Homo sapiens: one gene and its partner. The protein of the gene in region 1 interacts with the protein of each later gene in a pairwise test. Each region holds a gene or a part of one and is shown on either strand. Other genes may lie near its edges. The genes, in order: KCNAB3 and GMDS.

The links.
Region 2: the proteins of KCNAB3 (region 1) and GMDS interact in binary tests that used the Homo sapiens proteins (3 or more experiments, as listed by UniProt).

What each region holds. Positions count from the first base shown.
Region 1 is NC_000017.11:7,922,991-7,926,902, reverse strand, and holds part of KCNAB3 (voltage-gated potassium channel subunit beta-3), read left to right. Parts: intron 1-799; coding exon 800-844; intron 845-927; coding exon 928-972; intron 973-1,176; coding exon 1,177-1,220; intron 1,221-1,719; coding exon 1,720-1,806; intron 1,807-2,402; coding exon 2,403-2,488; intron 2,489-2,637; coding exon 2,638-2,758; intron 2,759-2,840; coding exon 2,841-2,935; intron 2,936-3,071; coding exon 3,072-3,192; intron 3,193-3,271; coding exon of another isoform or gene 3,272-3,358; coding exon 3,359-3,447; intron 3,448-3,723; coding exon 3,724-3,801; coding exon of another isoform or gene 3,802-3,912. UniProt on the Homo sapiens protein: Regulatory subunit of the voltage-gated potassium (Kv) channels composed of pore-forming and potassium-conducting alpha subunits and of regulatory beta subunit. The beta-3/KCNAB3 subunit may mediate closure of potassium channels.
Region 2 is NC_000006.12:2,238,734-2,242,645, reverse strand, and holds part of GMDS (GDP-mannose 4,6 dehydratase), read left to right. Parts: intron 1-3,912. UniProt on the Homo sapiens protein: Catalyzes the conversion of GDP-D-mannose to GDP-4-dehydro-6-deoxy-D-mannose.

The DNA of each region.
Region 1 (3,912 bases):
ACCATGAGCTCCTAAAGCACTGTGGACTGCCTTCTGACACGCAATTCGTGGTTTATGCAGCTATATTAGCTGCTCAAGTCAGAGGCCTCCTTCCATGGAACTTGTCTTGCTCTTCCCCAAGTACCCACACAGAGCCTGGCACAGAGCAGGTGCTGCTTCTGGGAAGAATCAACATGTCTGCGAAAGTGCACACAGTCTAAGTGGTTAAAGGAAAAAAAAAGGGCAATAGGAAAGATTAAACAACGGTAAAACATTTCAGTAACAGTCCACCATGACAACTTAAGACTTGTCATAAGTGAGCTCATAATTTTATGCTAAATTATGTAGCCAATTCTGTGGAAGCTGACCAGAAGGCTGGACCATAGATTGTGGCACTCAGAGAACACATTATGGATGAGGCAGAATTTGAGCTGAGCTTTGGAGGACGGGTGGGATTTTGCAGAGGCTCAAAGAAGGAGGAGGGCAACCCAGATAGTTGAAGCCAGACAAGGCAGTGTCCTTCCTGGCTCCACCATAGTTGGCCCCTCTCCCCTCATCCTATTCTATCTTTTTGGCACCCACAGCAGGGCTTGGTACACAGCTAATGCACAACAGATATTTGTTGAATATGTGATGAAAACTATACAACTACACCCCTAGTTCCTTCCAACAGACCTCTTATTTTGTCCAGGATGGGGCTGTGAGCTGAAATGGACTCCTGGTTTATATCCTACTTTGCAAGAGAGGAAAAGGTGGGGAGGAGAGGAAGGAATTGATTGGCCTAGAAGGGATCAGTGGCTCTGCCTTATGTTTCTTTTAGGGCTGAAAGAACCCTAGGGAACATCCTCAAGAGCAAAGGTTGGAGGTGAGACTGTTTTGGGGGGTTGCTGGGGATGTGATCACCCAAAAATCCTTTTCTTACTGGTTCTCCCATTTCTATTCTTCCAGGAGATCAAGCTATGTCATCACTACCAAGATTTTTTGGGGAGGACAGTAAGTGGCTGCCCCACTGCGATTGTGGAGAAGGCCTACAAAGAATGTGTGAAGGTGTATGGGGTGGGGGTGGGGACAGCTATCCTGCACCAGGTCCGCACCATGCCTGTGAAGACTCGTGCAATCCCATTTCCTTATGGCTCCAAGCCAGCCCCGGTCCCCTATCTTTGTCACATCTCATCTTTGACTTACCTTTTCCTACAGGGCAGAAACCGAGCGAGGTTTAAGCCGAAAGCACATCATTGAGGGTGAGAGTTAGGGGCTGGAAACCCAAAGTGAGGGGATATGGAAGCCAGAGGAGTAGGGAACATTCTCTGAACTTCTGGAGGCTTTGAATAGGGATTTAGGTGGCCATGGCAAGGGGGCAAGGTCTGAATTCTTTTTTTTTTTTTTTTTTTTTTGAGACGGAGTTTCACTCTTGTTGTCCAGGCTGGAGTGTAATGGCACGATCTCGGCTCACTGCAACCTCCTCCTCCCGGGTTCAAGGGATTCTCCTACCTCAGCGTCTCGAGTAACTGGGATTACAGGCACACGCCACCACGCCTGGCTAATTTTTTGTATTTTTAGTAGAAATGGGGTTTCACCACGTTAGCCAGGCTGGTCTCAAACTCCTGACCTCAGGTGATCCGCCCACCTCGGCCTCCCAAAGTGCTGGGATTACAGGCATGAGCCACCACGCCTGGTGGCCTGCATTCTTAGTACACTGAAGCTGAGGTGCTTATTTTCTTCTCCCTACCCCACCTCCAGGCTTGCGAGGATCCCTGGAACGCCTCCAGCTGGGATACGTGGACATTGTCTTTGCCAATCGCTCAGACCCCAACTGTCCTATGGAGGGTAAAAGCAGCACCCCCAAACCTTACAGTCCTTCAAAACTGAGCACTTCCTTGCTGGGTGCGGTGGCTCATTCCTGTAATCCCAGGACGTTGGGAGGCCAAGGCAGGAGGATCACTTGGGGCCTGGAGTTCGAGAACAGTCTGGGCAACATAGCAAGACCCTGTCTCTACAAAAAATGTTTTAAAATTAGCTGGCTGTGGTGGTGTGTGCCTTGTACTCCCAGCTGTTCAGGAGGCTGAGGCAGGAGGATCATTCAAGCCCAGGAGTTTGAGGCCACAGTGAGCTATGATTGCACCACTGAACTACATCCTGAGTGACAGAGTGAGACCCTGTCTCAAAAAATCTAAAATACAAAAATTGAGCACTTCCTCAAACCCTCAGCAGGAAGCCAGCCCCTGCTCAGAAGGCCTCCAAAACTCCACAGTGGAGGCTGAGACTCCAGGATGTGGACAGGAAGAGAGGCAAAGAGTAGATATTAACTTTCATGACTCCATAGAGTTGCCTGGGGCCTTGGTGGGGCAGGTGGAGGTCTGCAAATCTGGAGTCTTAGATTCCAGGGCTCTGACAGTAAGGCTTTCCCTCTCCTGTGTACCTAGAGATTGTGCGAGCCATGACCTATGTCATCAACCAGGGCCTGGCCCTATACTGGGGGACATCCCGATGGGGGGCTGCAGAAATCATGGTGAGTGTGTGACCCCACCTTGCCCCTGTCCCACAACTGGTTCCCACTTTTCACGTGGTTACTCCAAAGCCCACTGCACTGGGGGAGAAGGCAGAGAAGAAAACGGAAGTAGTGCTCTGACCACTTTCTTTTCCCCAACCCCAACCCAGGAGGCCTACTCCATGGCCAGACAGTTCAATCTGATTCCTCCAGTGTGTGAACAAGCGGAGCACCATCTGTTTCAGAGGGAGAAGGTGGAGATGCAGCTGCCAGAGCTCTACCACAAGATTGGTTTGCAGCCCTCATCCCTGCCTTTACCTTAGCCTCATCCATGGCTAGGTCCTTTTCCTGACACCCAGTGTTCTTCCCTTAGGAGTTGGATCAGTCACTTGGTACCCTCTAGCCTGTGGTCTCATTACTAGCAAGTATGATGGGCGAGTCCCAGATACTTGCAGGGCCTCCATCAAGGTGAGATCTGGGGGCTCTCGATGGCAGGACTGGGCTATATGGGCTGCTTTGGGGGGAGTTACGGGGGGCTGCTTTGTGAGTGTGGTGGTGGTGGTGGTGATGGCGGGGTCTTCTGTTGATTCTTCTTGGCCTCCAGGGCTACCAGTGGCTCAAGGACAAAGTGCAGAGTGAAGATGGCAAGAAGCAACAAGCCAAAGTCATGGACCTTCTTCCTGTCGCTCACCAGCTGGGCTGCACCGTGGCCCAGCTTGCTATTGGTGAGACATTGCACCCTGCAGGGGCCCTGTCTCCTCCTGACATGCTCCCAAGCCCATCCTAAAACTGGTTTGTCCCTAGGGAGGACGCTTGTCTTCAGAGACACTTCTGAAATCTATGTGGTCACTGTTCCCCATCAGTCCTCTTTTTTTCCTCCTCTGGCCCCAGCGTGGTGTCTCCGCAGTGAGGGTGTCAGCTCTGTCTTGCTGGGGGTGTCGAGTGCGGAGCAGTTGATAGAACACCTGGGCGCGCTACAGGTGAGCCGGGGACTCAGAGGCAGAGCCTATCTGTCCCCCTCCCCAGGAGTCAAAGCCACGCTATCCAACCCAGGATGGCTCTATCAGGTCACCCACTACAAAGTCCTCACTTTGCAGGTGAGAGGTCCCAGGGCCGGAAAGCGAGGCACCGGCACAGCTGCGGCTCTTGCCTTGCCACTTGACCCCACTGTGGTGCTTCCCCGGCTACTGGAACCCCATGCCCTTTCTCAGTGACCCAGCATGGGCTGCCGTCGCCACCGTCCCACTCTCCTCCAGGTGCTGAGCCAGCTGACCCCGCAGACAGTGATGGAAATAGACGGGCTCCTGGGAAACAAGCCGCATTCCAAGAAGTAGTCTGTCGCGGGCGCAGGGACCCAACCCGGTGTCGCTGCACCCGCCCGAGCCCCGCTCCTCGCAGCCGCCTCTCCCGCTCCGGATCCCTCCACGCAGCGGCCGGAGCCAGAC
Region 2 (3,912 bases), on another chromosome or scaffold:
ATGAGACAGAGAGAAATAAATAGTCTTACTCTAAGAAGAGATTTCAGATTCAAATGCCACTGCTCTGGCACTTGGGGCTATCATGGCATTTGTGCCAAGATGGGCTCTTAAATGGGTTGTCCCAAATTCCCGCTTGAGAATAGTGCGGACAGCCAGGGTGTCCTGTCTGCTGTGTATCTCTAGTACGTATTGTCAGGCTTCTTATTCTAGCCTTCCCCTCCCATCGGTTCTTGACACACTCCTTTTCCAAAGTGGGAACCTTATTAAATAGGCTTTAAAGAAGCTCAGGCTCTGGCTTTGCATTGCTGTCTCCAGGCCCTCTGCCAGCCACTCTTAAAAGCTCACCCCCATTGGCTAATGATGCTGTTCTTTACTGCACTCTTGGAGATGTTCTTGCTGTTTTTTGAATACTGTTGCCTTGTACCTCTTTGGAGTAATTATTTGTGGCTGAATGGCCTCACAATTCTTATTCCTTTTAAGGTGAGTCTCAGTGTTCTCAGCCTAATCCTGATAAATGCAGCCATTCCAGGAACTTCCTCTGTATTTACATGTATGCAGTCCCTGTTGATTGTATAAGTAATTTCATATCTTTTGTCTTGAGATTATGAACTACTTTAAGATAGAAATCTCATTTTCAGCCTGTTACCTCCCACATGCCTTCATCTAGTGGGGTTTCAAAACTGTTGACTTACTTTTTCCATTAGCAGAACACATCTTCACTGCATGTCTGCAGTGTCCAAGGCTTGTTTTGGTGCTGCTGCAGATATAAAGATATGAAAGTTGTCTTCATCTGTTTGTGTTGCTATAAAGGAATACCTGAGGCTGGGTAATTTATAAAGAAAAGAGGTTTATTTGGTTCATGGTTCTGAAGGCTGTACAAGAAGCATGGCACCAGCATCTGCTTCTGCTGAAAGCTTTAGGCTTCCACTCATGGAGCTAGTGTATGCAGAGATTACATGGTGAGAGAGGAAGCAAGAGGTGGGGTGGGGTGTGGGGTGCCAGGCTCTTTTTAACAACCGGCTCTAGCGGGAGCTAATAGAGTGAGGAGTCACTCATTACTGTGAGGATGGCACCAAGCATTCATGAGGGATCTGCTTCCATGACCAAAACACCTCCTATTAGTTCCCACCTCCAACCTTGGGGATTAAATTTCAGTGTGAGATTTGGAGGGGTCAAAGATCCAAACCATGGCATTCCATCCCTGACCCCCCAGATCTCATCCTTCTCACATGCAAAATACAATCATCTTTCTCATGCAAAATACAATTCCAATAGTCCCTAAAATTCTTAACTTGTTCCAGCACCAACTTAACGGTTCAAAGTCTGAGACTCAAAGCAAGTTCCTTCTAGCTATGAGCCTGTAAAACCAAAAACGAATAATTTTTTTCCAAGATACAATGGTTGTACGGTCATTGGGTAGACATTCTGTGACTGCAGCAGCCAGGATGTCGGAGCAGCATGTAGGACGTTCCAGGACTCCTTGAGGTGTGCCAGGCCAGCTGTGCCCCGGGCCTGTCTCCCCAAACCATGCTGTCCTCCTAGGTCTCTGGGCCTCTGATGGGAGAGACAGCCTCAAAGATGTCTGAGATGCCTTCAGGGTCTTTTCCCATTGTTCTGACTATTAGCACCTGGCTCCCTTTTATCCATGCCAACCTCTTTAGCAGGTGATTGCTCCCCAGCACCATTGGCTTTCTTTACTGAAAAATGCTGTTTTCTTTCACTATCACATGACCAGGTTGTAGATTTGAAAAATTTTTCTGATCTGTTTCCCTTTTCTCTACCAATTCTACAAGTAATGCACTTTGAACAGCAAATGCAACAGACTGAATTACCATCTTCCTTATGACATTGATAGTCTAGTGGTATGATGATGGTGATAGTTATAATTATGGTAGATTAAAATAATTAACAAGTACTGAGCATTTAGTTTGTGCCAGGTACCGTTCAAAGTGCATTACATTTTGTTCAAAGTATATTTGTTGAAGCAACAGAGAGCTTCTATGAGGTGGTTTTCTTTTTCTTTTCTTTTTTTTTTTTTTTTTTTGAGACAGTCTTATTCTGTTGTCCAGGCTGGAGTGCAGTGACGTGACCTCGGTTTACTGCAACCTCTACCTTCCAGGTTCAAATGATTCTCGTGCCTTAGCTGCCTGAGTAGCTGGGATTACAGGTGTTTGAATTACTGCTTAGCTCTTTCTGAACTGCACTGGCTTTGGGTAAGTCACTTATCTTTTCTGCCAGGTTGGAAGAATAATTCTTATCAAATAGGAAATAAATCTGCACATAGTAGTGGCCTTTGCCTCATTACTGGAATGGACCTTCCCTCCATAGTGTTAACAGAATAATAAAAGATTTCTTGACTTTTAGGAAAGGAAGTTGAATGTGGGAGGTATTACTATTTAGCCTTGCTTTGCATGGGGAATCTATTATCTAGAAGCAGAAAGTTCTGTAATATTTGGAATCAACCACAAGGCTATAAAGTACTGGGAGGCCAACAGATTTAATGTCCAGTGAGTCTTTCAAGACTGTGCAAAGCAGATCTGGGAGCTGGTCTTATCTTCTCATATAAGAGGATTGTAGGCAGTGACTTCCATTCTAAATCTTCCTTGCTGGGATTTGCAGTCCTGGGATAAAAGGTTTGGCATTATTGGGCTGGGCGTGGTGGCTCACACCTGTGGTCCCAGCACTTTGGGAGGCTGAGGCGGGCCTCCCAAATCTCTGGATCACGAGGTCAGGAGATCGATACCATCCTGGCTAACATAGTGAAACCCTGTCTCTACTAAAAATACAAAAAAATTAGCTGGGCATGGGGGCAGGTGCCTGTAGTCCCAGCTGCTTGGGAGGCTGAGGCAGGAGAGTGGGGTGAACCCGGGAGGCAGAGCTTGCAGTGAGCCGAGATCGTGCCACTGCACTCCAGCCTGGGCGACAGAGCAAGACTCCATTTCAAAAAAAAAAAAAAGGTCTGGCATTATTGGAAGTGAGAGAGATGTCTTGAGTACTGTCCTGCTTAATCAAAGACTGTTACATGTGATTAATTGAAAGAGCTCTGGACTGGGAATCAGAGGTTGGGTTTTGATACCAATTAATTGTATAGCCTTACATTTTTTGAGTGTTTTTCTTAACTTGTCAAGTGAAAGGGTTACCTGGTTATTCTTAGGGATCTAAGGGCTGCTCCTAGTCTACAGTAGTGTGATGTTTGGATTACATGCTGACTTATTATGTGTACAATAGAGAAATTATGCAATTATCTTTATATTTAAGCAGTGCAGTAATTTCAGTTTTAGACATAAAGCCAATTGGATTTTTTTTTTTTTTTTTTGAGACAGATCTTACTCTGTTGCCTAGGCTGGAGTGCAATGGTGGTATGATCTCACTCACTGCAACATCCGTGTCCTGGGTTCAAGTGATTCTTGTGCCTCAGCCTCCTGAGTAGCTGGGATTACAGGCGTGCGCTACCACGCCCAACTAATTTTTGTATTTTTAGTAGAGTTGGGGTTTTGCCATGTTGGCCAGGCTGGTCTTGAACTCTTGGCCTCAAGTCATCCGCCCACCTTGGCCTCCCAAAGTGCTGGGATTATAGGCGTGAGCCACCGTGCCCGGCCAGGATAGTTTTTTTTTTAAATGAAACCAATGAACTATTAATTTTACTGAATTTGAAATTAAGTTTGTAAACTAAGAAGAAATTCATATGAGTTGTATGTTGTCAGAATTTGTAAGGATAGAGTGAAAACTTGGAGCTGTCCATCTTTGTAGGACATATCAAATGAATGAAGTGACTTTTTGGTGAGGAACGATTTTTTTTTTAACTGGTACATAATAATTGTACATATTTATGGGGTATGTGTGATATTTTGGTACATGTTTGTAAAGTTCAAATCAGGGAAATTAGGATAGAGGAAGGAGTTTTAAATTCTT